Linked DNA regions of Homo sapiens. The protein of the gene in region 1 purifies or fractionates together with the protein of each later gene. This does not show direct contact. Each region holds a gene or a part of one and is shown in the gene's direction. Other genes may lie near its edges. The genes, in order: KCNAB1 and ANKRD44.

Evidence for each region.
Region 2: the proteins of KCNAB1 (region 1) and ANKRD44 purify together in Homo sapiens (co-immunoprecipitation; one large-scale study listed by IntAct). This does not show direct contact.

Annotation. Positions count from the first base shown.
Region 1 is NC_000003.12:156,119,194-156,123,576, forward strand, and holds the start of KCNAB1 (voltage-gated potassium channel subunit beta-1), read left to right. Parts: upstream 1-1,384; 5' UTR 1,385-1,418; coding exon 1,419-1,693; intron 1,694-4,383. UniProt on the Homo sapiens protein: Regulatory subunit of the voltage-gated potassium (Kv) Shaker channels composed of pore-forming and potassium-conducting alpha subunits and of regulatory beta subunits.
Region 2 is NC_000002.12:197,118,641-197,122,460, reverse strand, and holds part of ANKRD44 (serine/threonine-protein phosphatase 6 regulatory ankyrin repeat subunit B), read left to right. Parts: intron 1-916; coding exon 917-1,129; intron 1,130-3,820. UniProt on the Homo sapiens protein: Putative regulatory subunit of protein phosphatase 6 (PP6) that may be involved in the recognition of phosphoprotein substrates.

The DNA of each region.
Region 1 (4,383 bases):
TTGAGAGTGACAGTGGACTAAGGGCAAGTGAAAGGGGGCAAGGCGTACATTAAAGGAAGCAAGATAATCCAAGACAGCAGTAGATGACTTGTTACCAAGCCATGTGACCGAGGTGACCACATTAGTTCAGATAGTAAAGGGATGAGAATAGCAGTGAAGGAAATTCTTCCTCCATACCGTGGTGGCAGAGGAGGCCTTATGACAGCCTATTGACAGACTTTCCAAAAGAGCTAACTGCACTTTCCTATCTCTTTAAGAAGGCATGCTTCTTTCCTCCTTCCTCTCCTGCTCTTCTCAGGGACTCTAAGGACTTGCTATAACTCTACAATTTTTAACTTACGGTTTTGTCATGGAAAGAAAAATACATGCACCTTCCCAAGTTCTTTACATGCAGCAGGCACTGAGATAGTTGATCCAGAAGAGACTTAAGTTGATTGAGGGGGAGGGTGCCTGGTGCTTAACGGGTCACTAAACAACTCTGTGATAGACCCCTAGGTGGACACTGACATCATTATCTCCTAAACTAAAACAGAGTGAGATCCATGGGTGTGTGTGGGTCAACCCCATGCATCTTAACCATAGGGCCATCAGCTTGGCTTTCTTTGTTTCTCCCAAACTAGTTTTCATGTACACTGGGCACACACATACACATCCATGCACATACAGGCTCCCACCATTCCCTCCCACTCTTCTGTTTTTTCACACCAGTTTTGGCCTTCACCTTCCCAATTATCAGATGATTCTCATGGCTTCTATTTGTCAGAAGTGCTGGGAGGGGCAGTTACTGAATCGGTTATGAGGGATTACCATTCTCACATTAGGAATGAAAGAGTGCCTGACATACGTTATGTGGTTCACTGACATTCAAAGAAATATAAAATAAATTTAAAATGTTCAGGTTTGCACAAGAGAAATAATCTTTCCCTTGCATTGATACTGTTGAACTTATTTGAGGAAATTCACATTAAAACTTTTAAAACTCCAAAGGGACTCTAATCAGGAATGGCTAATGAGCCTCCAGAAATCTTTTATAACTCTAACATGATTATCGAATGTAATTTACCAAACCTATATGACCAAAAGTTCAGAGTTGTCACTATTAAATAAAGCAAAAGTCCTAACTTTGCGGAAGAAACAGCCACTGCCAAACTTCAGTATTACAAAGTTGTTGGGAGTTGTTTTTAAAATTTCCGTGTTCGAAGATACCACAGGTATTGGCCAGCTTACCTCTTCACTAGGAAAGGTTAGAGATACATTTTCATCCCAAGCCACAGACTGGGCTCAATTACAGCTTTGTGGCAGGATAAGGTTAAGAGAGGTGGAGTGGGCAGGGACGAGGGAGGGAGGCAGAAGCAGAAAAATCAATTCAGATTACTTTGATGACAGTGACTTCCAGTCTTCTCTGAAAGATCTCCACGATGCTGGCAGCCCGGACAGGGGCAGCGGGGAGTCAGATCTCAGAGGAGAACACCAAGTTAAGGAGACAGTCTGGGTTTTCTGTAGCAGGGAAAGACAAATCTCCCAAGAAAGCCTCAGAAAACGCTAAAGACAGCAGCCTTAGTCCCTCAGGGGAAAGCCAGCTCAGGGCGCGTCAACTGGCTCTGCTGCGCGAAGTGGAGATGAACTGGTACCTAAAGCTCTGCGACCTGTCCAGCGAGCACACCACCGTCTGCACCACAGGCATGCCGCACAGGTAAGCTGCCCCTGCTCTGCGCGGGCTTTGGGAGACGCCGTTCGAAGGTGCTCTGGAGAATGCTTTGATTTCTTTTCCTCTGCAGCTGGAAGTCTTAACGGCTCTAATTGCCTTAGAGATGATTGGCACTTCAGAATGTGTAACCACAAAGAGCAGGATCTTGGTGCAAATGGCAAATAATGTTCCCTGCATTGTTATTCAGAAAAGACCTCTTACAAGGAGGCAGTAGATGCTTAGGAGCTGACAGGACAAAAGAGCATTATGATTTTTCTTAAGTAAAAATCAGAGGAGTTAAGAGATGGTAGGAAAGTGCTCCCTTCCAAAATAACTACAAAAAAGAGTTTGCAATCTTTCAGCATTTCCTTTGCTCTGAGAACTTGGGGATGAGGGAAGAACATTTGTTTTGCCTGGTTGAAAAGTGGAGTTGAGTAGTGTGAACTTGTTGAATGAGGGGTCAGGCTGGCCATAGGGATGCAGAATGGGACATATTGACCACCAATATAGGGATCTGAGCCCCGTGTCTAAGACAGATAACATCAGGAGAAAAAGGTAACTTTTAAAAAAGAGATAAATGTAAGGCAAATCTCTATGGGTTTTCTTTCTGTTCTTTACTCAGCCTCAGCTTCAAATAAAGCAGAGGAAGGATAATTTCACAAATCCCAGTGTTCCAAGGCAAAACGTACTGAGTAAAAAGTGTCTGGAGTCCTGAAATTTAAGGATGCTTATTTTCTATAATTTGTGCAAAAAATCTCTTAGGAATTAAAGATAATTTTGGAAGAAAAAATACTGTGAAAATAATACCTAGAATAGCTATGTTATTAAATGGTAATAAAAATTCCTTTGAGATGAAAAATGGTTCCAATTACGTAGTCAAAGTATGGAAAACTCCTTTTGTAGAGACTGTATGGTAGCACTGAAATTCTGCAATGCAGCCTGTATCAAAGCATCCAGTGCACTCTGAGCTGCCTTTCTGTCTATATTTCTATTTCCAAAAGACACTACAGAAAAACTTATTTAGTAATTGAATTAACTTGTGCATATAGACTAAAAACTTGTACCGTACACTTTAAAACTCCTCAACTAACTTTCATTTTCTCTTTTTCAAGGCAGCAATAAATAGATATTTTAAAACCTAAACTATTATTCAAAAATCAACATTTAAAAATTAGCACAAAATAAAGCTTCTGGAAATGTTCTATGAAATACATTTGGTATTCATGGCCAGAGTGGTTTGTCTGAAGCTCTTGTATATGCTGTTGGGCCCACATTTGGGGTACATGGGAGGAAGACCAAAGGAAAAGTAGTCTCGTTTAAAGAAAGTTTGAATGAGCTTGTTAGTGTTACATATCTCATATTTCAAACTATTACATATCTCACATCTACAAATCTTAAAGCTATTATTAAAGATCCTCTAGGAAAAAGAGTTAAGTGGCAAAGGAAAGCATTGAAAATGGTTTTCTTCCGTAACATTTTCCTTGACTTGCGATATACCAGAAATTTCCTTTAAAGAGTCTAATACAAGACCACAGAATTCTTCATTATCTGACATTGGAACAACATTGAACAAGTCAGAGTGGCATATTAGTTAAGGTAACCAGGTTTAGCAAGAAACTTTTGGGGAAAAGCAAATATCTGCTCTTTTCTGCTTCACTTAAACAATAATATTTTGTTCTGTAATCAGAAAAGACTAGATTAGACATGATCCAGAATTAATGTCTCCTGTGATAATCTGTGGGGTAGTGTTATTAATCACTGATTGACAATAGCATGGTGTTTCCCTTGTTTAGTAAAAGGGTTGAAAAAGAGTGAAGATATGTCCACCTTACATGATCAAAAATTAAAAATTTCCCATCCTCCTTTATTATTGCAGCATGATTATTTCCAGGAAGAAACGAGTATGTGTAGTTGGAACTAACTCTATTTATAAATTAAATACATTTATTACAGAGTTCAATGTTTGCAATAGCTCAGGAAACTAAGGCAGTTTTTCTCATCGCCAGCAACTTTTTTACCTCTCAAATGTTGGAACTACATTCCTCTGTCGAGTCCTTGAGATTCCTGGACAGTGACAATGTCTGATGGTGCAATCTCTTCCAAATTTAATGTTAGCGATAGAATGTACGATCCCCCAAGTCACCCAAATTTTTCTTTCATTTGTAAATGTCAGCCGTTGAGAAGTCCCAGAAAATTTTCTTGGACTTCCAATTGTTCTTTCTTCCAATAACATGGCCCATGAGTGATATCTCCATTAGAAACTTGTATGTAGAAGATAAATATGATTAACTTATAAAATATTAACAAATTTATCCACCTGTGAAGCATTACTTACAAGACAGAATATGAAATGTATTGAAGAGTCCTTGAAGACATTACACATTTGCTATTGGAAATAATTCTGTGGGTCTTTGGTTAATGTTCATCAGTAAGGAATTGCTAGCGAACTCAAACTTGTTTCCTTTCTTGGAAGATGGAATTAAAATATTTTACATCAGGTTAATTCTAGTTCCTGAGGAATTTGAGGATTGCTTTATGTCCATATTCTATGGTAATTTATATTTGAAACAAAGGGTATTATTAAATGATTGGAAGAAAGCATTAGAGTTGGGGGAGATTCAGCAGTCCTGGTATATTTAAGAAGTAAAATTGCAGGCAGCAGGATAGGGAATGCACATTAGGTTTGTGGTAAGTAG
Region 2 (3,820 bases), on another chromosome or scaffold:
AACTGAATAACTTTCTATATCAACATAGATAAATATATAGACATAAAGATTCTATGTAATATATATTAACCAGTTGTTCTTAAAGACTGGCCAAGGTTCTGCATCCCACCTTCCAAATGTAGCCTTCTAAGTCATGACTTACAGCAGAAATGAATGAATAAATGGCAGAGACAAACAGCAGCAATGTCTACTCTTGAGCTGGAAAAGGCAGACTGCTGCCTTCTCTTTCTGCTGGTAGAACAGGAGCAGTGGTGAGGCTGGAACATCCTGTCCCCCAAGAAAGGAAAACCAAGTTGCATCATTATGGAAAACCATAATGAGGAAACCAGGCATCCAGGGCAGGTCTCAGAAAGCAATAGGGAGCCGTGGACGAAACACACCTCCTGACGGCACCACTGCTCTGCTACTAAAATGCAACCTGGTGAGGTGTCGGACTCCAGAGCAAAACAGAGAGTGGATTCTGACCCGCCTTCCATGTTTAGACTCCACAGCCACCTCCCCTGCCATCTCCGCAGCCACTTCCTCTGCCATCCCCCACCATTTCTTGAGGTTTTCTGTGCCCCAATCCTAGAGTGTGGGACTCTTTTCATTCTCCTCTGATTTACTTCTCTTTTGGTGTTTTGAAAGCAGCTTTGCCCTTCACCTTTTATTCCTTTGTTAGCTGAAAAATACCTCTCCCCAGGATGAAACTTCTCTGTCTCCAGTTCATTTTTTGCCACATTGACTTTTTGCTGATCTTTACCATGGGGTGACAAGCATTCCCAAGATGACCACACTGGGGCAAGAGTAAGCTCTGAACAATTATATTGGCGGATGGCTATTTCCTTTCTCTAGCCACAGCCGTTATGCTTTTTGTGGAAAATGGAGTAAACTGGCTCTAATGACTTTAATCACCCTGTGTTGGACTCTTTTGCAGATTGATGAAATCAATGTCTATGGAAATACAGCGCTTCACATCGCCTGCTACAATGGACAGGATGCTGTGGTTAACGAGTTGATTGACTACGGTGCTAACGTGAACCAGCCAAACAATAATGGGTTCACCCCTTTGCATTTTGCTGCTGCCTCCACTCATGGTGCTTTGTGTCTTGAATTGTTAGTAAACAACGGGGCAGATGTTAACATTCAGGTATGACACTCTTAGTCTCTGTGTTGAATGCCTTTGCATTGAGCTTCTGTTTGAGCAAAATCAACTGCTGCAAATTATGCCATGTTTTAGTGAGTTGGAACCTCACAGCCTTGTCCTGGATTTGGAGGCTATAAGAAAAGTTGTCTGGAGGCTGAGGCAGGTAGATCATGAGGTTAGGAGTTCAAGACCAGCCTGACGAAGATGGTGAAACACCATCTCTACTAAAAATGCAAAAATTAGCCAGGCGTGGTGGCGGGTGCCTGCAATCTCAGCTACTCGGGAGGCTGAGGCAGAGAATTGCTTAAACCCGGGAGACAGAGGTTGCAGTGAGCTGAGATTGTGCAACTGCACTCTAACCTGGGCAACAGAGCAAGACTCCGTCTCAAAAACAAAAAAAAAAAAGTTGTGTTATTTTTCTTCAGGAGTGGTGGTATCAGCTGAAAGGTACCAAGGCTCCAGCCGTGTGTTCTTGTTAGCTTAGTGAATGTGTCAGGACAAATACTGGATCTCTAGGATATTGACTTGCCCAGAAGCTAATACTGAGGTGAATGTTGAGCTGATAGGGCAGTGTTGCTAAGAATTCAAAGGAAGGCCTAATAATGATTGTAGGCCTGTTTCCAACTCCAGTGTGGGTTTAGAGCTTCTCAGATACCTTCTTTCTTTTCTTTCTTTTTTTTTTTGAGATGGAGTTTTGCTCTTGTCACCCAGGCTGGAATGCAATGGCGTGATCTCAGCTTACTGCAACCTCTGCCTCCCAGGTTCAAGCGATTCTCCTGCCTCAGCCTCCCCAGTAGCTGGGATTACAGACATGCACCACCATGCCCAGCTAATTTTTTGTATTATTAGTAGAGATGGTGTTTCACCATGTTGGCCAGGCTGGTCTCAAACTCTTGGCCTCAAGTGATCCACCTGCCTCAGCCTCCCAAAGTGCTGGGATTACAGGTGTGAGCCACTGTGCCCAGCCAATACCTTCTTAAAGCAAACCCCAGATAGTGGCTTCAGTGATGTAGCACTGAGCTGGTCATCACAATCATTCCTTTATTCAGCAAATTTACTAAGGACTACCCAGTGCCCTCTGTTTGGTACTGAAAGAGTGCTCTAAGATGAGATTCAGTCTCTGCCTTTAAGGAACTTACAGTGTAGTAGGGAGGTAGCATGCACTCAGGTAATCATGAGCAAGAGAAGATATGATGAGAAGAGTCATAAAGCATTGCAAACTCTAAGAAGCAATTGTTGACTTGTTTTTTGCTTGGGAATAAAAAATGGAGATCGATTTTGAGGGGAGACTTGGAAGATTAATGTAGTTGAGTTGAGGAGGGATAGAGATAATTTGAGAGAGAGTGTTCCAGATAGAACAGCATGAGCAAAGAGGGGTGGGAATTCTGGATAGGAAAACCTCTAGGTAACTTGTCAGCTTGCCATGTGACAGCTAACCAAGGGGAGCTTATCACGCAGCATTCATAATTTGGGCGACATCACTTGAATGCATTTAGATTGTAGCAGAATATCCTTAGCTGTGCTAGGAGACCTTTTATTCAACCCAGGCTTCCCTTCTTCCCAGCACACAGGGATCCTGAAGCAAGGTCCCAGTGTATTCTGTCTCTGGTTTTGAAAAATGATTTCTAAGGTGTAATTTCAAGAATATCACATCAGTCTATTTTAATAACCTTCTCTATTCACTATTAAAATCTTATATTTTTTCACAATTTCTAATAGTGGTGAAAGATGTGACAAATTTTCAGAATAGCAATTGATTGTATCAAATAGAGTATAATTTTATGAACATGCCAAGTGTGGTGGCTCGGCCTGTAATCCCAGCTCCTTGGGAGCCTGAGGTGTAGGATTCCTTGAGCCCAGGAGTTTAAGATCAGCCTGAGCAACCTAGTGAGATCCTGTCTGTAAAAAGCTTTTTTATTTTTAATTGTATGACAGAAAGGAGCCAGAAATGAGCTGAAATGTGATTTGACCAAGGAAGAGGACTCATCTACTGGATGATTTTGAGCCCAAGGAGCTTGGGCCTCTCCAGGCTCTGCAGGCCACGAATCATTCTAGGGGTCATATGATCAGACCTGAGCATTAAAAACAGTAATCCGGTCACAGAACACCAAAGGCAGGAAAAAAAAAGGAAAATAATCATATATATGACTACAAAAAAGTCTTAAACATTTATAAAACAAAACAACAACAATAAAACCTCTAACATGAAATTAAAATAAGAGCAACTTAGGGAAAATTTTCTTCAATATACATGATAAGCAAATAGTTAATATGCTTGATATAAAAAGAGCTCATACAAATCAATAAGAAAAAGTGATCATTACTAGAAAACATGGAGCAAAAGTCAGATCACAAGAGAGAATAAAAAATACATTAAGCCTGTGAAAAACTAGTATTACTGGTAATTAGAAAAATACAAACTAATACAAAAACGTACATTTGTGTTAAAGAACGGCAAATATCAAAATGGCTAATAACACCTAGTATTATCAATGAAAACATTGAAATGCAATAAAGAAATATGATCTCTTTTTTAATGCTAAAATGTTATGGTTATGTGTGTAGATGATGCAAAAACAGAGAAAATTCTCTGGAGTATGTACCAATATGCTAGCAACAATTATCACTGCAGAGAGACAAAATTATGATTTAGGTTTTTCTTTCTTTCTTTCTTTCTTTCTTTCTTTCTTTCTT